Linked DNA regions of Homo sapiens. The protein of the gene in region 1 interacts with the protein of each later gene in a biochemical or structural test. Each region holds a gene or a part of one and is shown on either strand. Other genes may lie near its edges.

The links.
Region 2: the proteins of SLCO1C1 (region 1) and SYNPO2 interact in a test that uses a peptide from one of them, tested with the Homo sapiens proteins (one large-scale study listed by IntAct).
Region 3: the proteins of SLCO1C1 (region 1) and PREX2 interact in a test that uses a peptide from one of them, tested with the Homo sapiens proteins (one large-scale study listed by IntAct).
Region 4: the proteins of SLCO1C1 (region 1) and SHANK2 interact in a test that uses a peptide from one of them, tested with the Homo sapiens proteins (one large-scale study listed by IntAct).
Region 5: the proteins of SLCO1C1 (region 1) and SNTB2 interact in a test that uses a peptide from one of them, tested with the Homo sapiens proteins (one large-scale study listed by IntAct).
Region 6: the proteins of SLCO1C1 (region 1) and SHROOM3 interact in a test that uses a peptide from one of them, tested with the Homo sapiens proteins (one large-scale study listed by IntAct).
Region 7: the proteins of SLCO1C1 (region 1) and MAST4 interact in a test that uses a peptide from one of them, tested with the Homo sapiens proteins (one large-scale study listed by IntAct).

What each region holds. Positions count from the first base shown.
Region 1 is NC_000012.12:20,698,332-20,701,831, forward strand, and holds part of SLCO1C1 (solute carrier organic anion transporter family member 1C1), read left to right. Parts: intron 1-1,220; 5' UTR 1,221-1,245; coding exon 1,246-1,374; intron 1,375-2,986; coding exon 2,987-3,128; intron 3,129-3,500. UniProt on the Homo sapiens protein: Mediates the Na(+)-independent high affinity transport of organic anions such as the thyroid hormones L-thyroxine (T4), L-thyroxine sulfate (T4S), and 3,3',5'-triiodo-L-thyronine (reverse T3, rT3) at the plasma membrane.
Region 2 is NC_000004.12:119,024,854-119,028,353, reverse strand, and holds part of SYNPO2 (synaptopodin-2), read right to left. Parts: intron 1,728-3,500; coding exon 916-1,727; intron 1-915. UniProt on the Homo sapiens protein: Has an actin-binding and actin-bundling activity. Can induce the formation of F-actin networks in an isoform-specific manner.
Region 3 is NC_000008.11:67,950,812-67,954,845, reverse strand, and holds the start of PREX2 (phosphatidylinositol 3,4,5-trisphosphate-dependent Rac exchanger 2 protein), read right to left. Parts: upstream 2,801-4,034; 5' UTR 2,452-2,800; coding exon 2,311-2,451; intron 1-2,310. UniProt on the Homo sapiens protein: Functions as a RAC1 guanine nucleotide exchange factor (GEF), activating Rac proteins by exchanging bound GDP for free GTP.
Region 4 is NC_000011.10:71,242,578-71,246,077, reverse strand, and holds part of SHANK2 (SH3 and multiple ankyrin repeat domains protein 2), read left to right. Parts: intron 1-2,549; exon of another isoform or gene 2,550-2,682; intron 2,683-3,500. UniProt on the Homo sapiens protein: Seems to be an adapter protein in the postsynaptic density (PSD) of excitatory synapses that interconnects receptors of the postsynaptic membrane including NMDA-type and metabotropic glutamate receptors, and the actin-based cytoskeleton.
Region 5 is NC_000016.10:69,295,164-69,298,663, forward strand, and holds part of SNTB2 (beta-2-syntrophin), read left to right. Parts: intron 1-3,500. UniProt on the Homo sapiens protein: Adapter protein that binds to and probably organizes the subcellular localization of a variety of membrane proteins. May link various receptors to the actin cytoskeleton and the dystrophin glycoprotein complex.
Region 6 is NC_000004.12:76,739,229-76,742,728, forward strand, and holds part of SHROOM3 (protein Shroom3), read left to right. Parts: coding exon 1-2,698; intron 2,699-3,500. UniProt on the Homo sapiens protein: Controls cell shape changes in the neuroepithelium during neural tube closure. Induces apical constriction in epithelial cells by promoting the apical accumulation of F-actin and myosin II, and probably by bundling stress fibers.
Region 7 is NC_000005.10:67,141,893-67,145,392, forward strand, and holds part of MAST4 (microtubule-associated serine/threonine-protein kinase 4), read left to right. Parts: intron 1-222; coding exon 223-345; intron 346-528; coding exon 529-641; intron 642-2,776; coding exon 2,777-2,904; intron 2,905-3,251; coding exon 3,252-3,487; intron 3,488-3,500.

The DNA.
Region 1 (3,500 bases):
GCCTAATAATAATTTTTTTGAAACCAGACCCTTGTCTCATCCTTTCCTTTAGTCAATTCCCACTCCCTAGAGGAATCCACTTAATTTTTAAATTGTTGAAGTCCTCTGATGTTTTAACTTCATATTATTAATACAAAGCAAATCGTTTATACTATTACTTGATTTTTCAGTTTGAGAAAGTATGAATTGAAATGGTGAGGGATGAGGTTTAGTGAACACAAAACAAGCATTGCATAAAGTCAAGGTGATATACTCAGTCAGAATAGATTTCTGCCACAATACATGAAATTTGACTCCTAACATTATTCCTTTAGGAATAACATTATTCCACTCCTATTATGTGGATATAGAAGTCCTCTATTAATGTACAATTGGGTCATCTGATAATATTAGGGAGATTGAGAAATACTTTGTTTGTTGAATTCCTTGATTTAGGTTAGATTATCAGGCAGGCACTGAGCCATGTGGAATCCTAAAGAAGTAGGGGCACAGGATATGTAAATATTGATGTGAACAGGGAGAAAATAGGTTCAGTGTGTGATCCTGTCCTGTGAGGGGCGGTGGGAAATTGAGCATGGGAAGCAAGGCTGTCTTTTTTACTTTAAGGCTGATCAAAGACTGTTCTTTCACCTGAATTAAATCTAAGGCACAAATCATGTTGCTCCCTTATTTATCAAACAAAAACAATACACAAATTGGACCTCTTCTTTTTTGTCATATTTTAAGGCTCACATTGGGTGCTACAGGAATCATAAGGTGGTACAGGGACCTATAATGAATGTAAAACTTCTATTTGTTTTGCTAAGAAGATAGATTTAAAGGCTTTAAAGACTTTATCCTAATGAATCAATATTCAAATAGTTGAATTCCTCTTCTTCCTTTCCTGCTTGCTCCTAGTTTAAACTGGCAAGACCACAAAGTTAGCAAAATTCTGCCTCATTATTTATTCCAAAGGCAACACTTAAATTTATTCTTTGCCATAATGAGGCTTAAACTGGGCAGATTGAGAAAGAATGCTGGCTACAGAGTTCCAATAGCAGGATTAGTTAATCAGATATCCTGGTTGATTTTAATTGAAAACATTTGCCAACTTACTGTGACAACAAAAGGTAGATTCACTTTAAATTGCGTCTATAGAATTGTGGTATACTGTTGAATAAAAAAATTTAATAAATTGCGTAGTATTTATTTATTTTTACTTTAAAAACTAACTTTGACAGATCAGAGTCAAGGAATGTGTTTATAATGGACACTTCATCCAAAGAAAATATCCAGTTGTTCTGCAAAACTTCAGTGCAACCTGTTGGAAGGCCTTCTTTTAAAACAGAATATCCCTCCTCAGAAGAAAAGCAACCATGCTGTGGTGAACTAAAGGTAGAGCAACCAAGAAGTAAATAGTGTTGATGCTCTTAGTTTTCTGTCCAGATATCATCTATATAATGAAGTTAGAATGAGAATTGTTTTCTCCTTTAAAAAAAAAAAAAGATCTTAGATGCAATTTACTAAAACCACACCTTGCCAGGCGGTGCAAGCAATCTCTACCTGACCATGTGGGTTAAATTACTTTCCTGGGCTCATTTAAATGCCCCCCCAAACAGAAAAGAGAGAAATAGTAGAAACTAGTATTTATTGAACTTCTGCCATGTGCCAGATATTAAGCCAAGCACAGATATAACATTTAATTTGTGAAACATCACATTACTCCCATTTTGCAAATAAAAATGGGAATAATGTTACAGAGTAGGGAGAAGAGTTGCTTTTTTTTTTTTTTAGGATTGTTGTATCAAACAATAGTTTTTAGTTTTTTGAGGAACCTCCATACTATTATATTTTCCAAAGAGACTACATCAACTTATGTAACCACTAACCATGTACAAAGATTCCCTTTTCTTTACATTCTAACCAGTTTTTATTTTTTGTTATAGCCAACAGATGTGAAGTGATATGTCATAAAGATTTTTATTTGCATCTCCATAATGACTAGTGATGTTGAGCACCTTTTTCATATACCTGTTGGCCATGCCTTCTTTTAAGTAATGTCTATTTAGATTATTTGCCCATTGTTAAAATCATGCTATTTTTCTTTGCTATTTAGTGATAGAAGTTTCTTTTTTTTAATTATTTTTTAATTATTATACTTTAAGTTCTAGGGTACATGTGCACACGTGCAGGTTTGTTACATACGTATACATGTGCCATGTTGGTGTGCTGCACCCGTTAACTCGTCATTTACATTAGGTATATCTCCTAATGCTGTCCCTCCCCGCTCCCCCAATCCCCCGAGAATAGTTGTTTCTTAAGGGATGCTTTGTGTGCTCCTATTCTTTCTTTATACAAATATTCACTCAACAAATCTCTGCTTTTTTCATATAAATGCTAACCTTCCCTATGAATGTTCTATCACAGACCCATGTCTATCAAAATATATAAGCTAGATATCAAAGACATGTTTTCCATTGAGAAAAATATTTGACTATGAATTTAATAAGTATAAACATAAACACAAGGAATAATAGTTGCACTTTTTCAGTCTGTACATTATGTTCCCGGCTGGTGCATGCACCACCCTGTGAAATACATAATCCCAAGTGCTGGACTTGTTATAGGATGTCAAGTGTTTGGCTTATGGTTTCATTTACTTTCTTACCAATGAATGTCTCACCATACACTGACTCTTCAATGTAAGACTCCTTTGAGTGCCCCTCTGGAGCAGAGTGGAAGAAGACAAAAGATAATTCAATACACATTTCGCATAAAAACCAAATATATATTTTAAATTCCAAGAGAATTTGAACTGTTGAAAACTTACAGTGCTTAAGGCTGATGGAAACCTCGAACAGTGTTTGAATTAAAGTTTCAGTGATAATAAAGTTGATATTATACATTGTTCTTTGTTGTTTGTTTTGTATTTGTTTGTCTATTTACTTAGTTTCCAATTGTGTGTCAAGCTGGAGTCAGACTAAGTGTGACCTGTCATATTTTCCAGGTGTTCTTGTGTGCCTTGTCTTTTGTTTACTTTGCCAAAGCATTGGCAGAAGGCTATCTGAAGAGCACCATCACTCAGATAGAGAGAAGGTTTGATATCCCTTCTTCACTGGTGGGAGTTATTGATGGTAGTTTTGAAATTGGTAGGTATTACAGATGCCTGACTTTAATTTTAAGCCCAAGATCTTCTAGGTGTGGCTAAAGAACACCTTCTGCATTCTATTGTCTGCTGGGATCAGACTCTATTCATAAAATCTTTTTTTTTTTTTTTGGACAGAATTTACCATGATCTTATTCTACAGGAGAGGCAATTTTCTCAGAGCAATCAACAGTAAATTTTTCTCCCCAGGTGTTTGGTATTGTATGGTTCACACAATTCAGAGTTCTACATCAGAGTAAGTGACTTTCTTGGAGGAAAGGGTGAGATGCTAATTGGTATTTTGAGTTATAAATATGTAGAAGTATCTTTACAGAAGAACAATACACCCTGGGAGCACTATGATTCAATTTTAGAG
Region 2 (3,500 bases), on another chromosome or scaffold:
AGACTTAATATCCTACTTTGAATAACCGAATTCATTGCCATTGTGTATCATATATACAGTCAAGTGCCTTTGCCTGTCAGCCTTTACATCCTCAAATAAAATTCCAAAATTAGTAAAAAAAAAAAAAAAAACAAACAAAAATAAACGTGAAATAAAACAATAGAAATCCTAACACCTAACTGCAATTCTTATCCCAATTCTCCTTTCTGTCTTCTCTCCCCTGGGTAAAACAAAATGCCATACAAAGCACTGAATTTAAATATATTTTATGTTTGGAGACATTTAAATGCCTCCACATGGCCCTGGAGACTGACTTCTGTGTCTAGAAGGTAGATGAAACACTTTGCAGTCAAATGAAGACTTACACAACGGAGAGGATCATGTAACTGCTCAGTATACACATGTCCTTGTCTGTCAAACTCACTTCTGCAAGCATCATCAAGCTGCACAATGATTTTTTTTCAAAACAAGGATCTGCTTTTGATATCAATGGTAGAGCTTTTATTTTAAAGACACCTCTCAGTAGCAGACTCAACAGTTTTTGACATTTAAACTGAGTCCACATGACTTCAAGTGCTTTCTTATGCTATTTTAACATGAACTATTTCAACTGTCTGAAACAAAATGAACAGGCACATTGACAATATTATTTTCTTTAACAGTTCCTGTGCCTTTGGGGATAAAAAGAAATTCATGAAAAATGTTTAAATCTATATGAAGTTCGGACTTATTGCTTCCTATTTAGAAATTGGTATTCTCCACAATTTCACATTTGTGATTTTGTGCATTAATTAAATATTTCTTTAAGCCAATGAGAAACATAAGAAAAATCTTGCTGAAAAACTCATGCAAGCAAAGAAGCAGCAAAATGCCCCCAACTCCCAAGCCCCTTCTGAAAGCCCAGGCAGAACTTACGTGCATGCCGCGCTCGGTGCTTGTGAGGTCTGCTGTGATCTTTTTCCGAGCGTGGATCTTCTCCCTGCTCTGTGCCTTCTGATGAGACGGCAAAGGATACCAGAGAAGGAGGTGCTTCTGACTGCCCTCCTTCCACTGGAGAATCCACACACTCCTTTCCTGCCTGAAGCCTGCACCCTTCTGTCTTCTGCCTGTCAGAGCAGTCGAGGATCACTTCCACCCGGGGCAGTCCCGCATCTCCTGCTTCACTTTCCTGGATCACTCTCAACTCTCTGCCACTGGAGATCTGGATTATCTTGCTGGACCTCAGGAAAGGGTCTGCTTTCTCATTAGTAGGGATCGAATTTATGTGGACAATCCTGTCATGTGACAAGTTAGGGTCTGGGTCAGGAGACTTAGATTTTTCAGCTCCCGGGAGAGCCACTAAAGGGCCACTAGCGCCCTTATGTCTCTCCTGTGAAAGGGACAGTTGCAGCTCAACCACAGGCCCAGGCTGTACCGCTTCTACCTTCTCCCTTAAGATCAGCTCTTCTGCCACGCGTCCTCTTTGGGAGTCAGGCATTTGGGGAGCCCTTTGGTAGCTCGGGCCTGTTTCTTCTTTCAAGCTGCCTGCACAGTCGGGACCACTTCTTTGGTTCTCAGCTAGGGGAACTTCAGTCTTGACAGGGGCGAGGAAGAATTCTGTGCACTGGGTCTTTGTGGCCGGTCGAATCTGCAGGGTGGTACTTTCCACATAACCCCCATGTGTGAGATGCTCGAGGTTTTTGTTTTCATTTTCAGATATCAAAGCCTCACTTATTCCACTGGATGGTCTGCACACAGAAAAATCATTCCAGACACTTAAATCAGACTATGTTACATCTGCCAAAGAACTTCCTGACACTTTTGTGATGTCTAATATGTGATATAGTCAAAATATTTTCTTCTAAATGTCAGTTGCAACATATTTGAAAACAGAAGGTGGCAACATGTTCATATTATTACTTAAAGAGATACCAAATAAACTTTTTTAAAAGCACAAAGAAACTCTTACACAAGATTATGAAACCTGAATCCATCCTAAATTCAGCTTTTATTTTTAAAAAACTACATGGATCCCGTTTATCTGTAAGTACTTGGAATCTGGGTATCTCTTATAATGAGTTTGCTAGAATGTGACAAAGCATTTCAATGTCTTATTGACTAAGTTTTGGTCTAGACATTATGAAGTCACATAAACATATCCAGCACCTTCAGATCAATCTTAACTTACAGATAACTCAACTAGTCCTTTTAGAGGCTGTGCTTTCTTGAAAGGAATGAAATAGAAGCTGTTTTTTAAGCCCCAGTGAGCATGTGTTTCGTAATAAGTGGACCCAGCCCAGTACTCTTGCGTAAAGAGAAATCCTTTCCGTGCTGCAATGAATCATTAAGTCATGGAGTATTTATAATCTGAGATGTCTCCCTTTCTTCTATTTGGATCTGTTTCTTGGAGCATTTTCTTTTTAGGATATCTGAAGTCAAACTGTTCCTTTATCTCTCAGCTAAGGAGCCTAGAGCTGTACACCACAGCTCTTTGATTTTGATCTTCCCAGTTGTCTGTGCAAATTTGGGTTTCTGAGAAGAAGCAATGTCAGTTTAAGAGTTAAATAACTTCTTTCTGAAACTCTAATTTAAACTGTAAATGTTTTTAGAGGTATTATTCACAGAACAGCTGTAGGAAATGCCTTCATTTTTTATATTTGTATTTTTTTTAATTTTGGAAGCAGCATAATTATCTTTGCCCCTTTCCTCCTTCCTTAAAAGACAGTTATGACTCATGCAGGCACGTCAGCTGAAGGGCGTGAGCTTCTACTTGGATTCTACTCAAAGGAATTTACCTTAGAATTTATGTGGTAGTGCAATTTCCGACCAATGCTCAAAATACTTACTCCTACCTTTGCTTTCAACTGCATTTGGCAAAACAAAACTAAACAAAATGAAAACAAACTAACAGTTAAACAAAATGCACCTTTCTCTATACGCAAGTAATTGGAAAAGCTTCCCTGTAATACAGTATTTATACAACATTATAATATCGTATTAAAAAAGCATGATGTTAGCAAATTAGATCATTATTATGTAGAAAATGTTAAATACATTGTTAAACTGAATTTGAGGGTACCAAAAGGTCAGAGAGTTTTAATTTAGGAAGGCCTTGGGATGGAAGTAGATTAAATCACTTTGAATAACGTTAGCAATCAATTGTGAAGCTGAGAAGAGAATAGTTTCAATTCATGCCAGCCTTGTAGACCAATACAGACAAATGGCCAGATAAATATTAACATTTATCAGCAGCTGAAGTAAAATAAATAGACATGAGTAAATATCATAAAAGCATGAGCGAATAAAGCTTTATGCCTTAAAACATTCATTTCCCATCAGTCTACATAGGTATTCATCAAGTCCACAATTTATGTGTCACAATTATAGAATTTTTAAAATCTTATTTTAAGAACATTCAAGATAATAGAGATGGAATGTTAAAGGAGTTATTTTAAAATAGTCTTACTGAGCTATCTCTGGGCAATAGTTCAGGAAAAGTAAAAACACTTGTCCTCTACTGA
Region 3 (4,034 bases), on another chromosome or scaffold:
TATTTATAGGGCAGTTAAGTAAAAATATGTTCTTAGTAGAACTAAAAATATGTTTTCTACCTCTTCTTCCTCTTCCTAATAAAGATTAGTCATCCTTCATCCATGTTAATGGCTTAAAGCAATAATAGAAATGATTAATGACTAATCTAACAAATATTTAATTTGACTTAGGAGTAAACTATCAATTTTTGGCAACAAATTTACCACTCGACTTATTTAATACTATGGCTAACTTTTAAAAATAACTTCTATTGCTTGTTTCCATCTCTGATCATTCCCTTAGGATAGGTTCCTAGAAGAGGAATTACCAGGCCAAAGGGTTTGCATAGATTAAAAGCTCTTGGTACATATTAGCATAGTCTAATATCAAAACCAGAGTGACTACATCAACTTCAGGTAACCAAGAAAACTCCATGGGGAGTAAATGTTGCTATAAATAACACCCTAAAAAGAAAATCTAATAATCTATTATAAATAGATCTTAGGCTTTGTAAGCCAGAGTAAACTTTTATTTAGGATGGCATTCAGACTAATTAGTGCATTTGTGCATATAAACATAAACAGGCACAAATGATGCACAAAGAAAATGAAAAGTGGAAGAGCCCATAAATTCTGAAAGAGATAAAAAGAAATCATGAAATGATGTTCTCCTTATAAAAGGGGAAAATTTATTTTATACTTTCCACACTTTCTTACCTAACTCTATATACTAACAGTAAGTTTTCTGTTGTAATGATCAGGTTTAAGATTAGAAGAAAAACTGATATTTTAAATAAAGATCAACAAATTGGTTTTTAATATAATTAGATTAACTGTCTCTGCAAATTAGCATTCTGCACAGTACTTTGTTCACAGATCTTCAGAAAGAGTAATTATGTAAGAAATGACTCAGATTCTTCAAAAGACAAAGAACTTTGTTACCAAAAAAGTTTCATGAAAGCCAAATTTAAAGCTATTAAAAATCAAATCTTAAAAACATACTTTTTTGACAATCTTTGTTACAAGGAAGTATATAATAATTCTATAAACCACCAGTTACCAGGATATTCTCAAATACCTGTATATTTGCAGAGAATGTGGCCCCTGGAAGTCAAGTATATTGATTTTGAGAAGTCAACCATAACGCAGCCTGTACATTTTACATCACTTGAGACATTTTTCTTTCCTTCTTGCCACAGCCAAGAAGTGAATTTTATCTGTCATGATTATAAGCAGAAAGTTGACAGATTTCAGAACACTAAGCAGGAAGTTTGGCACCTGAAATATTTTCCTTCAGACCAAGGGGGCATGGAATTGGTTGTTGGAAGGAGAAGGATTTGGATGAGATCACAAAAACTAAAGCTCCTGGTTCTTTGAATGATGCTCTCCCAGGAATCTGGGTGGAAAGAAGCCAAGGCTCAAATTCTTTGTCTTTTCAGCAATGAATAGGAAAAATTCAACTTTTGAGTGTTATCTCAGCAGTTACTTTCACTCAGTTTTGCCCCTTCGGCCCTAAAATGAATGAGACGTTTTCAAAGCAGATGGCAGTGAGTCAAGCAGAAACGTGGAATATAAGTACATCCCCACTTCCACGAAGTCCCGAAGCTTGATTACAGCACTCTCATGGGCCATGTAAACAGGGGACCAGAAACTGAGCAGAAGACAGATTTAAGCCGGGGCGGGGGGCGGGGGGGAGGGAATTGTAAGACTAGGACAGGGTGAGCGCCACATGTGGCTTTAATATCCAACAGCTGCTAGAGATCATCACCCCGCTGCTCTCTCTGTACCCCTACACCAGAATCCTCTGTCTCAAAGACCATAACTAAAGCGGCCACTGCCATGTTATCTGAGTAACGAACTCAAGCTCGAGCACATTCAAGGATTTTTTTTAACTTAGTGTACCTGGATGTAGCCGACTGGACCTTTAATCACAAAACCAAAGCTTTAAAACAAAGTCTCCAGGAAAGAACAAGAAGGAAAATCAATTACACAGTGCACTTGAGCAGACTGGGGAGGCGGGTAAAAGAAAAGTGAGGGAAGATAGGGCAGCCGGGATTCCCTGGACTGGAGCTCTCTTCTCTAGAGCTAACTTTTCAGACCTGGAGGTCTCCAAGGCCCCCGCAACTCAGTGAGTCTCGGGGCACCAACAAATCCCCGCGGGGGTCACCGCGCCCGCGAACGCAGAGTCCACACGTGGATTCCCGCGCCTGTGATGCCCCGACCCGTCCCGGGTCCCCGCACAGACAATGCCGCGCGTCCTTCCCGCAGCCACTCCGGGACCCGCGCCCCGCGCCGCCCGGACGTCCCCCTGCGTCTGCCGGGGACACTCACCGACACCAGGAACTCCAGCGTGCCCACATAGTCCCGCTCGGTCTTCTGGAGCTCGCTGAGCACGCACACGCGCAGGCGAAGCTGCTTCTCCAGGTCCTTGGCGCTCTCGGCGCGGCTGTCTCCGCGGCTGTCCTCGCTCATGGTCGGCGGCGGTGCGCAGCGCGGCGCTGCCCGCCGTGCTGAGCGCTGACCCGCGCGCCCGCTGCTGCCCGGCCCCCGGCGGCGAGAATGGAAAGTTGCCGCCTCCGCCAACTCCGAGGAGAGACAGAAGACTTTACATGCTGGGGAGAGGCTGGGCGCAGGGAGAGGAGGGGATCGGGCTGAAATCCCGGCGCGGGGGGCGCGGGGCTCTGCAGAGGAAACTCCTGGGAGTGGGGGCTCCGGCCAGGCCCTGCGCGCCCGGCCCCGCTGCTCTGGCCTCACACGGCCGGGGCTGGAGGGGAAGCGGCTTCGGCAGCCACAGCAGTGACTTGGACATTAATCAAAAGCTTTGTATCCATGTGACTCCGACCCTTTACCCTTCGCCAAATCTCAGGAAAAAGGAAACACAACCCTGGGGAAGTACTGCGTACTGGCTAATCACACACACGCGCGCGCGCGCACACACACACACACACGCACACACACACACACACACACACACAGCAGCACTTGATATGGAACTCACAGGAGGTTCCCAATCCCAGGGACACACACTCCAAGGCGCAGCTCGAGGGTTACTCCTAAGCCTCCGCTATTGTTTAACTTTAATGTGTTTCGTACAAATCCTGAAAGCAAAGAAACAAGTCCCCACGGTTACATAACTGGATGGGAACAAAAACAACCACGGTATTGACCCTCCCTCTTTGAAAAGAAACACATTGATTTTTTGTTTCATTCAGGCACAAAACAGGTTTGCTTTTAAAACCCTCCAACTGAGAATAGTTCACAGGGCAGACACCCTCCAGTCTGAGCTTGGAAAGTCAATTAGCATAATAAATGAAGACACTATGGGAAAATGACAGCCTCTGCCCATGCAATAAACCCCAGATAAAATAAGCATCACCCTTGTACTGTGCTGTTTTCCATGTCTACAACTTTTTTCAACATCAAGATAGTATGTAAATCCATTGAGAGGCGAGGGTATTTGTGCCAGTTTTGTTTCTAAGAGCTGCTGTGATTTAAGACGGTGTCACTAATTGAAAAGATAAAGCTGTTGTTGAATGCTCATCAGAAGATAGAAAGCTAGATAGATAACGGAAATAATCTTAGATTTTTGAAGATAGACACACAGAACATTCTTGATTTTAAAGTTAAAGTTTATTGCCTTTTCTCACTTGGAAACTAAGCCTTAAATATTTCCAATACATTTAACAAACAAAACAATTTATATATTTTTTTGAATTGGTATTATACACATATATTTTCCACAGATCAACTTCAGTCTAAAACTAATGGCATTTAAATAAACTGAAGAGTGAATAGAGTTGTTGCAAGAAAGTGGTATGTTAATTTGTTGCAGTCACTGAAAGCATTAGCAAAACTCTAAAACATAAAGATGCTTTTCACTATATTTACATTAAAATAATTACCTATTGGTTTTCCAGATGATGTCTTTCCAGAGCATAGTGTGACCATTCCCCTCTGTAACCACACAAAGAAGGATTGTACTTTCTTTGTATATTAAAGATAAAATTTTCGAATGATGTACACAAAGCTGATGGGCAAGATGTGATTTTCCTCTT
Region 4 (3,500 bases), on another chromosome or scaffold:
CTGGGGAGTGGAGGGGGATGCTTCTGTGGCCTCATTTGTACCCCTGAGAGCATAGGGCTCAGCCGTTCCTGTCCATGTTTTTCCTGCCACCCCGCACAAATGTCCCTGGGATTTGAAGAATCTGCTCCACTCCCCTCTTCCCGTACAGGGGCCTGCAAACTAGAGGCATTTGCCCCTGGGCCAGCCGGGCTCCTGTCTGACCCCTCCTCACGAGGTGGACAGGTCCCCCAGGAAAGGGACCACGCCTTGCTCCTGTCTGCATTTCAAGGTCCTACAGTGGCCCCAAGCATGGACCAGGGGACTTTGGCAGGGGAAGATACTGACCCGATGGCGTCGCTACTGCCCCTCGTCTTGGTTCTGGACTTTCCCTCCCTCGAGGGTCATTCAGCTCCAGTGGCTGAACTTGCCGAAGGTCGTGTGGCCCAGCTGGGATCCACACCTGGCGGCTGCCCACTCCACCGTGCAGAAGAAGGCACCGGTCGCTTCCCCGGCCTCCAGATTGCCTCCTGGGTGGCACACCAGTTTATTTTTCTGTTCACTTTCAGGTAAAGCAGATGAGGTAGCACAGTGGTTGTCAGACTTCTAGCTTAAGGAATCTTTTTTGCTCTCTTAGCATTTTGAAGGACCCAGAAGCTTTTTATGTATGAGCACGAATCTATTGTTATTTACGCTATTAGAATTTACAAATATCTAATTATTAATGCATTTAAAAATAGTAATAAACTCATGACATGTTGGTATAAATAATGTGTTTTTATGGATAACAACTATTTTCAAAATAAGAAAAACACTTGGTGAGGCCGGTCGAGGTGGCTCAGGCCTGTAATCCCAGCACTTTGGGAGGCTGAGGCAGGAGGATTGCTTGAGGCCAGGAATTTGAGACCAGCCTAGGCAATATAATGAGACCCCATCTCTACAAAAAATAAAAAATTAGCCAGGTGTAGTGGCACGCACCTGTGGTCCCAGCTACTCAGGAAGCTGAGGTGGGAGGATTACCTGAGCCTGAGAGGTCGATGTTGCAGTGAGCCGTGATCACGCCACTGTACTCTAGCCTGGGTGACAGAGTGAGGAAAAAAAATAGTGCAGTGGCTCACACCTGTAACCCCAGCACTTTGGGAGGCCGAGACGGGTGGATCACTTGAGGTCAGGAGTTCGAGACCAGCCTGGCCAAAATGGTGAAACCCCATCTCCACTAAAAATACAAAAATTAGCCAGGCACAGTGGGGCACACTTGTAGTCCCAGCTACTCAGAAGGCTAAGGCACAAGAGATCACTTGAACCCGGCAGGCGGAGGTTGCAGTGAGCCAAGATTGCCCCACTGCACTCTAGCCTGGGCAACAGAGTGACAGTCCATCTCAACAACAACAAAAAAACACTTGGTGAGAAGAGTGGCATTGTTTAACATTTTTGTGGTCTTTTTGCTGTGAGGTTTAATGGAAGACAGCTGGGTTCCCGTATCTGCTCCTGCAGTCAGCTTGTTGCAATATCACAAGTTTTGTAGCTTCCGTTGTGCACTTGGGAGAGGATGAGCTTGAAAAAGCAGCTCCCATCTCAGTGTTATGATGAGAATGGTTTGACTTCATAGATCTCTCGAATAGGCTGGTTCCCGGGGCTGCACGCTGAGAGCCTCTGGGAGGAGCGTGTGATCCGCCTTGTCAGTGCATGGGTCCCGTTTGAAAGCTGGCTGTGCCATGTGGTCCAAAGGGTGCTTTGAATGATGCATGTACCTTTTCTTGTCGTTCAGGATATGTCTGTGGAGTTTAGTCAGGGGCTTCAGACAGCCACCAGCTGGTTCCGACCCCAGGGGCAGGCCCTCTGATTGTGGGGTCTAGGATGGTGGGAGCATGCAGAGGCACCTTCCAGGCTGTGGGGTCAAGGAGGCTGGCAGAGCCTAAGGCAGTTTAGGAGACTCTGAGAGAGCAGCCTGGCCAATTTATAGAGTGAGGCAGGCTTGCAAGTGTAGACAGGAGAGTGGAGAGGACTTTGTAGGTGTCTGGCTGCCCAAGGAAGCCTATAGTTTTCTTTTGAAGTCTGGTTTTGGTATCAGAGTAATACTGGCCTCATAAGATGACTTGGGAAGCATTGTCTTCCATTTTTTTCTGAAAAGTTTATGCAAAATTGGCCTTCATTCTTCTTTAAATGTTTGGTAGAATTCACCAATAAAGCCATCTGGGCCTAGGCTTTTCTTTGTGAAAACTTTTAAAATTATTGATTGGATCTCTGCTTGTCATAGGTCTTTTTAGATTTTCTGTTTCTTCTTGAGTCAAGTTTGTTAGTTTGTGTCCCACCAGAAATGTGTCCACTTCATGTGAGTTTCTCTAATGTGGTTGCTATGTAGTTGTTTGTAGCACCGTCTCATTATTATTATTGTTATTATTTTTTTGAGACAGAGTCTTGCTCTGTTGCCTAGGCTGGAGTGCAGTGGCGTGATCTCAGCTCACTGCAAGCTCCGCCTCCCGGGCTTACACCATTCTCTTGACTCAGCCTCCCGAGTAGCTGGCACTACAGGCGCCCACCACCAGGCCCAACTAATTTTTTTGTATTTTTAGTAGAGACGGGGTTTCACCGTGCTAGCCAGGATGGTCTTGATCTCCTGACCTCGTGATCCGCCCGCCTCAGCCTCCCAAAGTTCTGGGATTACAGGCATCAGCCACCACGCCCGGCCTGACTCCTTTTAATTCTGTAAGTTGGTAATAATGTCCCTTCTTTCATTCCTGAGTTTGGTAATTTGAGTCTTCCCTTCTTTTCTTGATCATTTCAGCTCAGGTTTGTAAATTTCGTTGATCTTTTCAAATAACCAACTTGTAGTTTCATTGATTTTCTTTATTGCTTTTCTAGCTTAGATTTCATTAACTTCAGCCCTAACCTTTATTATTTCCTTCCTTCTGCTAGCTCAGTTTCAGTTTCCCGTTCTTTTTCTGACTCTCACAAGGTGGAAGGTTTTGGTTATTGATTTGAGATTTTTCTTCTTTTTAACATAGACATTTACAGATCTGAATTTCCTTTAAGTACTGCTTTAGTTGTATTCCATAAGTTTTGATGTGTTTTGTCTTCTTTTTCACTCGTTTCAAAGTGTTTTCCAATTTCCCCGTGGTTTATTCTCTGACCCATTGGCTATTTAGATGTCTGTTTAATTTCCACATATTTGTGCATTTGTAAAATAAATTTCGAATTTCATTCTATTGTGGTTGGAGAACATTATTTGTATAATTTCAGTCCTGCTGATGTTTAATGAGGCTGTTTTATAGCCGGGCATGAGGCCTCTCCTGGAGAATGTTCCACGTGCCCTTGAGAAGAATGAGTATTCTGCCGTCTTTTGTGGCATGTGCTGCAGGTGTCTGCTAGGCTGCTCTAGACTCTGGGATACAACAGTGAACCAGACAGACAAATATTTCTGCCCTTGTAGGGTCGACATCCTCGCCAGGGGAGCAAACAATAATTAAAGGAGATCATAAATAAGCAGTGATGTAGTGTGGGAGGAAAGGAGAGCTTGCTGGTGG
Region 5 (3,500 bases), on another chromosome or scaffold:
GTGCTGCTATTGTGTGTCTTTTTCTATTTCTGGTAACAACCCTGTTAAACAAAATCAACATACTGAATTTTTTTTTTTTTTTTTTTTTTTTTTTTTTTGAGACAAAGTATTGCTCTGTCTGCCAGGCTGGAGTACAGTGGCCCGATCTTGATCTCTGCTCACTACAACCTCTGCCTCCCAGGTTCAAGGAATTCTCCTGCCTCAGCCTCCCGAGTAGCTGGGACTACAGGCGTCTGCCACCACTCCCGGCTAATTTTTGTATTTTTAGTAGAGACAGGGTTTCACCATATTGGCCAGGCTGGTGTCGAACTCCTGACCTTGTGATCCACCCGCCTTGGCCTCCCAAAGTGCTGGGATTACAGGCGTGAGCCACCGCGCCCAGCCAACATACTGAATTTTTTACTGACTTATCTATAAATTGGAGTGCATAGTGGACACATAGCCATCCAAAAGCATTCTAAGTGAACCAAGACATAATGAGCCACCTGCAACAGCTCCATTAATAAGTCCCAGATGCTATCCCGTCAGAAAAGGGCCACTCCTCTTACTAAATGGGGAATTTATACTGAAAAAAAAAAAAAAGCCACTTCTCATACACACACACATAGCTGTTAAATCAGAATGAAAGGCTTATTTCCCCTATCTCCCTTTGGTTCATTACTCCTAAAAGGGTAAGGGGTGTCAGGCACTTAATCATCATTGCATCACTGTGGTGTGATGTACTCAATGTTTAGAGAAAAACTGTTTAATTGGTTCGATTTGGCACAGCATTTACATGACCAGGTCACAGTCTCATTCAGAAGAATCTGGTATTAATTATACATTTTAAACTATGGCCGGGTGTAGTGGCTCATGCCTGTAATCCCAGCATTTTAGGAGGCCGAGGCGGGTGGATCACCTGAGGTCGGGAGTTCGAGACCAGCCTGACCAACATGGAGAAACCCCATCTCTACTAAAAATACAAAAAATTAGCCAGGCGTGGTGGCGCAGGCCTTAATCCCAGCTACTTGGGAGGCTGAGGCAGGAGAATTGCTTGAACCCAGGAGGCAGAGGTTGTGGTGAGCTAAGATCACGCCATTACACTCCAGCCTGGGTGACAAGAGTGAAACTCCGTCTCAAAAAAAAAATTTTTTTTAAACTAAAACAAGCTCAATATCTAGACCTAAATACATTAAGTTTGACACACACACACAGAATCACACACAGTCACATTTGCTTTCCATTCTTTCCTTCTCCAGGGGAAACAATCCAAAACAGAACATTTAAGAAATCTCAGGCCGGTCGCGGTGGCTCATGCCTGTAATCCCAGTACTTTGGGAGGCCGAGGCGGGTGGATTACCTGAGGTCAGGAGTTTGAGACCAGCCTGGCCAACATGGTGAAACCCTGTCTCTACTAAAAATACAAAAAATCAGCCAGGCCTGGTGGCACATGCCTGTAATCCCAGCTACTCGGGAGGCTGAGGCAGGAGAATTGCTTGAGCCCAGGAGACGGAGGTTGCAGTGAGCCGAGATCATGCCACTGCAGTGCAGCCTGGCCGACAGAGAGACTCTGTCTCAAAAAAAAAAAAAAGAAAAAAGAAATCTCAGGGGCCAAGCACTTTGGGAGCCCAAGGTGGGCAGATCACGTGAGGTCAGGAGTTTGAGACCAGCCTGGCCAACATAGTGAAATCCCTGTCTCTACTAAAACTACAAGAATTACCTGAGTGTGGTGGTAAACACCTGTAATCCCAGCTACTCGGGAGGCTGAGGCATAAGAATCATTTGGGAGGTGGAGGTTGCAGGGAGCCGAGGTTGCGCCATTGCCCTCCAGCCTGCATGACAGAGTGAGACTCTTATCTCAAAAAAAAAAAAAAATCTCAGGCCAGGTGCCGTGCCTCACACCTGTAATCCCAGCACTTTGGGAGACCGAGGCAAGTGGGTTGCCTGAGCTCAGGAGTTCAAGACCAGCCTGGGCAAGATGGCAAAACCCCGTCTCTACTAAAAAATACAAAAAATTAGCTGGGTGTGGTGGTGCCCGCCTGTAATCCCAGCTACTCAGGAGGCTAAGGCATGAGAATTGCTTGAACCCGGGAGGCAGAGGTTGCAGTCAGCTGAGATTGCGCCAGTGCACTCCAGTCTAGGTGACACAGCAAGATTCTATCTCAAAAAAAAAAAAAAAAAAAAAAAAAAAAGGAGGCCGGGCACGGTGGCTCATGCCTATAATCCCAGCACTTTGGGAGGCCAAGGCGGGCAGATCACAAGGTCAGGAGTTTGAGACCAGCCTGACCAACATGGTGAAACCCTGTCTCTACTAAAAATACATAAATTGGCCTAGTGTGGTGGCACGCTCCTGTAATCCCAGCTACTCAGGAGGTTGAGGCGGGAGAATTGCTTCAACCTGGGAGGCAGAGGTTGCAGTGAGCCAAGATCACGCCACTGCACCAGCCTGGGAGACAGAGCGAGACTCTGTCTCCAAAAAAAAAAAGAAGCCATGTGCAATGGCTCACGCCTATAATCCCCACACTTTGGGAGGCCGAGGTGGATGGATCCCTTGCAGTCAGGAGTTCAAGACCAACCTGGCCAACGTGGTGAAACCCTGTCTCTACTAAAAATGCAAAAAAATTAGCCGGGCGTGGTGGTGTACATCTGTAATCCCAGCTACTCAGCAGGCTGAGGCAGAAGAATTGCTTGAGCCCAGGAGGGTGAGGTTGCAATGAACCGAGATCACGCCACTGCACCCCAGCCTGGGTGACAGAAGGAGATTCCATCTCAAAACAAACAAAAAAAAGAATCTCTAAATCTCTCTTTTTAAAATTGTTTAGACATTGCTCTGTCACCCAGGCTAGAGTGCAGTGGCATGATCATAGCTCACTGCAGCCTTGAACTCCTGGACGCAAGTGATCCTCCCACCCCAGCCTCCTGAGTAGCTGGGACTATAGGCACACACCACCATGCCCAGATACATTTTTTATTTTTATAGAAATGAGATCTTGCCATGTTACCCAGGCTGTTCTCTAGCGCCTGGCCTCAAGTGATCCTCCTGCCTCCTGCCTTAGCCTCCCAGAGTGCTGGGATTGTAAGCATGACCCACCACACCTGGGGCATTTGCCAGTCTTGATGACCAAAATTGTTTGTATCCTGTCAATTCAGAGGTGTCCTTTGAATTGTATCTTTGATAGCGTTGACTGTGACTTTTGCTGAGTATAGCCTTTAACTTTGATGAACATAATCTTTATCTTCATCCCAAATGCCAACCAAACCATGTCACGGCTCCTGAAAGGCCTCTCTGCCTTTGCTCCTTTGGTTGGTCCTTCTTGCCCAGTTCAGTCCTTCTGCCTCTTCCTCCCTGCCTGTCCAGTTTTACCAATTCTTTTTTTTTTTTTTTTTTTTTTTTTTGAGACAGTGTCTCGCTCTTGTCACCCAGGCTGGAGTGCAGTGGCGTGATTTCATCTCACTGCAACCTCTGCCTCCCAGGTGCAAGCAGTTATCCTGCCTCAGCCTCCCAAGTAGCTGGGATTACA
Region 6 (3,500 bases), on another chromosome or scaffold:
GGGCAAGGGAGTGCCACCCCCATCCTGGAGCCAGCAGTGCCCCAGTTCCTTGGAGACTGCCACGGACAACCTTCCTCCTAAGGTGGGTGCACCCCTGCCTCCAGCTCGGAGTGACAGTTACGCAGCATTTCGGCACCGTGAGCGGCCCAGCTCCTGGTCTAGCCTTGATCAGAAACGGCTCTGCCGGCCTCAGGCAAACTCTTTAGGCTCCCTGAAGTCTCCATTCATAGAGGAGCAGCTGCATACTGTGCTGGAGAAGAGTCCAGAGAACAGCCCCCCAGTGAAGCCCAAGCATAACTATACCCAGAAGGCCCAACCTGGCCAACCTCTGCTGCCGACCAGCATCTACCCGGTACCTTCCCTGGAGCCACACTTTGCCCAGGTGCCTCAGCCTTCTGTGAGTAGCAACGGTATGCTCTACCCTGCACTGGCCAAGGAGAGTGGATACATAGCCCCTCAGGGAGCATGCAACAAGATGGCTACCATTGATGAGAATGGGAACCAGAATGGATCTGGCAGGCCTGGGTTTGCCTTCTGCCAGCCCTTAGAACATGACTTGCTGTCCCCAGTGGAGAAGAAACCAGAAGCTACAGCCAAGTATGTCCCCTCCAAAGTCCATTTCTGTTCAGTGCCTGAAAATGAGGAGGATGCCTCCCTGAAGAGACATCTCACACCTCCCCAAGGCAACAGCCCACATTCCAATGAGAGAAAGAGCACCCACAGTAACAAACCATCTTCTCATCCCCACAGCCTCAAATGCCCTCAGGCTCAGGCCTGGCAAGCGGGTGAAGACAAGAGATCTTCCAGGCTCTCAGAGCCCTGGGAGGGCGATTTCCAGGAAGACCACAATGCCAACCTCTGGAGGAGGCTGGAGAGAGAAGGCCTAGGCCAGAGCCTGTCAGGCAACTTTGGCAAGACCAAGTCAGCCTTCTCATCTCTCCAGAACATTCCTGAGAGTCTGAGAAGACACAGCAGCCTGGAGCTAGGCCGGGGAACCCAGGAGGGTTACCCCGGGGGCAGGCCCACCTGTGCAGTCAACACCAAGGCAGAAGACCCTGGGAGGAAAGCCGCTCCTGACCTCGGGAGCCATCTGGACCGGCAGGTTTCCTACCCGCGGCCCGAGGGGAGGACCGGTGCCTCGGCTTCTTTCAACAGCACAGACCCAAGTCCCGAAGAGCCGCCTGCCCCCTCGCACCCGCACACATCCAGTCTGGGCCGGAGGGGGCCCGGCCCAGGCAGCGCCTCGGCTCTTCAGGGCTTTCAGTACGGGAAGCCCCACTGCTCGGTGCTGGAGAAGGTCTCCAAATTCGAGCAGCGAGAGCAAGGGAGCCAGAGACCGAGTGTGGGCGGCTCTGGTTTTGGCCATAACTATAGGCCCCACAGGACCGTCTCAACTTCCAGTACTTCTGGGAATGACTTCGAGGAGACAAAAGCACACATTCGTTTCTCTGAGTCAGCTGAACCCCTAGGCAACGGGGAGCAGCACTTCAAAAACGGGGAGCTGAAGTTGGAAGAGGCTTCCCGGCAGCCCTGCGGTCAGCAGCTGAGCGGAGGAGCGTCGGACAGCGGCCGTGGCCCCCAGAGGCCGGACGCTCGGCTCCTCCGTAGCCAGAGCACCTTCCAGCTCTCCAGCGAGCCAGAGAGGGAGCCCGAGTGGCGGGACAGGCCCGGCTCGCCCGAATCGCCCCTGCTGGATGCCCCCTTCAGCCGCGCCTACCGGAACAGCATCAAGGACGCACAGTCCCGTGTCTTGGGGGCCACCTCCTTTCGACGTCGAGACCTGGAGCTGGGGGCGCCCGTGGCGTCGAGGTCCTGGCGGCCACGGCCTTCCTCGGCCCACGTGGGGCTGCGGAGCCCCGAGGCGTCGGCCTCCGCCTCCCCGCACACGCCCCGGGAGCGGCACAGCGTGACCCCTGCTGAGGGCGACCTGGCCAGGCCCGTGCCCCCTGCCGCCCGGAGAGGTGCTCGCCGGCGCCTGACTCCCGAGCAGAAGAAGCGCTCCTACTCGGAGCCCGAGAAGATGAACGAGGTGGGGATCGTGGAGGAGGCCGAACCGGCACCCCTGGGCCCGCAGAGAAATGGGATGCGTTTCCCGGAGAGCAGCGTGGCCGACCGGCGCCGTCTCTTCGAGCGCGATGGCAAGGCCTGCTCCACGCTCAGCCTGTCGGGGCCCGAGCTGAAGCAGTTCCAGCAGAGCGCCCTGGCGGACTACATCCAGCGCAAGACCGGCAAGCGGCCTACCTCCGCCGCCGGCTGCAGCCTCCAGGAGCCCGGGCCACTGCGTGAGCGCGCCCAGAGTGCCTACCTCCAGCCCGGCCCCGCGGCGCTCGAAGGCTCCGGCCTCGCCTCGGCCTCCAGCTTGAGCTCACTGCGGGAGCCCAGCCTGCAGCCCCGCAGGGAGGCCACGCTCCTGCCGGCCACAGTTGCAGAAACCCAGCAGGCTCCCCGAGATCGCAGCAGCTCCTTCGCCGGTGGCCGCCGCCTCGGGGAACGGCGACGCGGGGACCTGCTTAGCGGAGCAAACGGTGGAACAAGGGGCACCCAGAGAGGGGATGAGACCCCCAGGGAGCCATCCTCCTGGGGGGCCAGGGCCGGGAAGTCCATGTCGGCCGAGGACCTGCTGGAACGCTCGGACGTCCTTGCGGGCCCTGTCCATGTGAGGTCCAGGTCATCTCCCGCCACCGCAGACAAGCGCCAGGTACGTGCAACCAGCAAGTCCTGGCCTCGAACTGTCCCTTCCTCCCTAGAAGCTTTAGTGGGGCTCCCCAACCCCCCACACTCTCACCCGCTCTCCCAGTTCAGTTTTCCTTGTGATTACAGAAAAGTAGCATTTGTTTTCATGAGTTGAGTTTCTCAAGTGTCCCTTACCTGGTTTCCTTATAAAGATATAGGTATCTAGATTACGTATGTTGTTATACAGATTCTCTATCTATCTGTCTACCTCCATTTTAGGAAGTCACCACCTCTCAATGGAAAAATGCAAGGTTAAGAAAAATTAGGGATTATCTTTTTTGTTTTTTGCTTTTTTTTTTTTAATGGATTAGAGTCTGGGTCTGAGTATTTTAAAAGTTTTAGCTTTGCACCCTTTCTGTTTCTATTGGACTTTGCATCTACAAAATAGCTAGAATGATTGACATTGATAGTCATTGGTTATTGAATTCCTGGCCCTCAGCTAAGTGTGTGGCAGGTCCTGAGCTAAGTGTAATCTACATTTATTATTTCATTTAACCCTCATGATAATCCTGTGCAGCAGAGTATATTATACATGTCAGACCCCTGTCTCTCGGACTCCCACCTCAGCTCTTTCTGTGCATTATCCTGGTGAGGAGAGAAAATAAGAAACTCAAAATCTCACATAAAAGGATTTTCTAATAAAGGCACCAAATGCTGCAAGGATTATAAAGTACTTTCCCCTGAAAATTTTAAGCAGTGCTGGGAATAGAAGCTGAGCATTCTGACTCCTAGGAGCCTGTTAATTTCCCTAATTCTTAGCCTATCCT
Region 7 (3,500 bases), on another chromosome or scaffold:
AAACAGTGCCATAGCAACTGCTGTTAGCAACATCAAATCTCCTACTGATAAATTATCAGAAAAACTTGTGGGGCTTTGGTTGTAGAATGAAAAAGTATGATTTTCATGTCTGTATTTCTTTGCTGATATGTTCTCAAAATTGTTGTTAAAAACTGATGTTTGCCTTTGCTTAGTGGGGATAGTTTAACACTTTCCTCTCTGTCTCTACCTGCCCCCTTCCAGGTGGTGCATATGAAGTCAAACAGCATCGATTCTTCCGTTCTTTAGACTGGAACAGTTTGCTGAGACAGAAGGCAGAATTTATTCCCCAACTGGAATCTGAGGATGACACAAGTTATTTTGATAGTATGTGCTTTATCTGACATAAAACATTGTTTGGCCTTTACTCGATAAATAATTATCTTTGCTTTTGAACCTTTTCATATCTCTGAGTTCTTAAACATAATGTTGATCCAGAAAATCATAATTAAAATATCTAAATGTTGAAAATCTGAGTAATTGGACCTGTTCCCAAACATTTCACTGCAGCTCGGTCTGAGAAGTATCATCATATGGAAACGGAGGAAGAAGATGACACAAATGATGAAGACTTTAATGTGGAAATAAGGCAGTTTTCTTCATGTTCACACAGGTTTTCAAAAGTAAGTGAAATGTGGCATAAACATACAGAGTCTCTCTGGGAGGATCTCCCGCTGGCCAGATAGTATCCCCGAACAGCTGGACACTTACCGTTTTCCAGGGTTTGAGGTCTCCTATGCTTAAACTTCCTTTTGTTGAAGAAAAGTGACCTCCTCAACTTATAGTCTGTCCCTATCCCCTAGGCCTTTAGACTGCCATTTTACCTTCTCTCTTTCCTGTGAGACAACAGAGATTCAGATAGCTGAGACCTTGGGCTTACCTGAGCTCTGATCCCCTTCAGGAACCCCGGCACCAATATATTTCTCTCTCCACAAATTAAGATATTGTTTTCTTAGAGGCATAGCCTTGCACCCACAGTCTTGTTTTTGGAGTGTGTGACTGCTACTTATATGATGACCTTGCCTTGAACGTCTCTCACCTGGCTCAATGCCAGGCTGCAGAGGTATCACTCATTGCTTTCAACTCAGGATGAAGAGCGCGAGCTTCACTGTGTACAGAGTCATCTCCGAGGGATTACACAGAGTACAACAAAAGGAGAAGGCTCAGTCCTTGACATAAGCAAAGATACCTGCGGACAGTTGACTGTAGGATTGTAAAGTCTCATAACTGCCAGGCATAGTGGCTCACGCCTCTAATCTCAGCACTTAGAGAGGCAGAGGCAAGAAGATAGCGTAAGCCCAGCAGTTCAAGACCAGCCCGGGCAATATAGTGAGACCCCGTTCTCCACAAAAAGGAAAAAAAAAGCCAAAAAAAAAAAAAAGTCTTGTAACCAATAAACAGAAATTATAAGCCATATTGAAAAGGCAGTAGGAAGCCAAGCTAGAATCATTTAGATAATTGATGCTTGAGAAAGATGCCTTTTTACCAGTACAGTAAAAGTTAAAAAAAACAATTAATCAAAACAAAGAAAACTGATAGTACTGAGACAGAACAAGGCCCTAGGAAAAACGGAAATCAACCTGAGGGCACCCTACCTCCCTTTTGCTATTTTCAGTAGCTATATATTTTCTGTTGCCATGGCATTTTGCATGATTATTGTTTAGCTTTTCTATAACATTTAGTGATTTTAAAGTGCTCCGTAGCTTTTTCTAAATGATTACCTAGATGCACCTGCAAATTGGCCAGCACTACCCTCCTGTGTATGGGAATGGCATCGAGGTAAGGATTTCCCTGGAGAAGGTGGTAGCCAGTCTGTCCTAGAGCCAGGACAGAAGCTTTGCTAAGTGTGGACTCAGACCAGGACTGTTCTCTGGGCCATCAAAGACAACAATGCCAACCCCTAAACACTGCTTCCTTCTTTGCCTTGGTGGGTATTTCATTTTCCCACCATCTCCTTTTCTGTAGCCACTTTCCTGCTATTCCTAGTAGATTATAGGAGGCCTGAGGACCATTCCCATGAGAGCAGCAAGTGTCTGAGCAGGGCAGTAGGGAGCGCTTCCTGCCCTAGGCTCTTAGACCCCCATTTTACCTTCTCTCTTATGAGACAACAGAGATTCACAGATAGCTGAGACCTTGGGCTTACCTGAGCTCCGATCCCCTTCAGGAACCCCGGCACCAACATAGGAAACTGCCTGTCTATAGATGTGATTTGTAAGCGAAACAAATACCTCTGGCTCTTATAACGGAATATGTACTGCATCCTTGCCACACCACCACCCAGTCTTGAAACAGATAATTTATTCTTCTGTTTGCACTCAATTCCAATTCATTTTTCTTCTTCCCACCCCTGACTGGTGGCCATTAAATCTGTTTCTCTGTTATTTTCTTTTTCCAGTTGACTTCATGGTTAAAAAGTAATCAAGATGTGCATTGATCCCAAGGCCTAGAAACTCCACTGCATCTGTGGATTTTGTTTGCAGATACAAAGTCCGCAACAAGATATGATGAGAGGATGATGAATTCATAGCTCCCTATTCGTATATATGTACACACACACACACACACACACACACACACTCACTCACCCTGACCCTTCCTCTCTGGATTCTGGTTAACAACACTGGAAAGTACTTTCTGAATACACAATATTAGTTCAGAATTTAGTTATCCTCTCAGGTTTTTCTCCCAAGACTTGGAGTGTTTTTCTGACAAACTCTTTTTAGTAGATATTAATAAGCACCAATTATTTGCCTTCCAGGTTTTCAGCAGTATAGATCGAATCACTCAGAATTCAGCAGAAGAGAAGGAAGACTCTGTGGACAAAACCAAAAGCACCACCTTGCCATCCACAGAAACACTGAGCTGGAGTTCAGAATATTCTGAAATGTATGTGAAATGCCTCTTAAGTAATATAAGCAGTAGCTACTAGAGCAGAGTTTCTTAAACTTTAGTGAGCATCAGAATACCTGGGGGGCTTGTTAAAACACAGATCTCCCACTTCCAGAGTTTCTCATCCAGTAGATCTAGGGTAGGGCCTGAAAATGTGCATTTCTGACAAGTATCTAGATTATGCAGATGTTGCTGCTGTGGGTACCACACATTAAGAACCATTGCACTAGACATCTCTTGGTTAGGCTTATCCAAGTCCGATTTTCACCTGGTTTCTTCCAAAATTCACCTTTAACACAGTTTTCTAGTATGTATATATGACTTTGTTTTTGCTTTTAATTAAGGCAACAGCTATCAACATCCAACTCTTCAGATACTGAAAGCAACAGACATAAACTCAGTTCTGGCCTACTTCCCAAACTGGCTATTTCAACAGAGGGAGAGCAAGATGAAGCTGCCTCCTGCCCTGGAGACCCCCATGAGGAGCCAGGAAAGCCAGCCCTTCCTCCTGAAGAGTGTGCCCAGGAGGAGCCTGAGGTCACCACCCCAGCCAGCACCATCAGCAGCTCCACCCTGTCAGGTAAGCCCCGGGC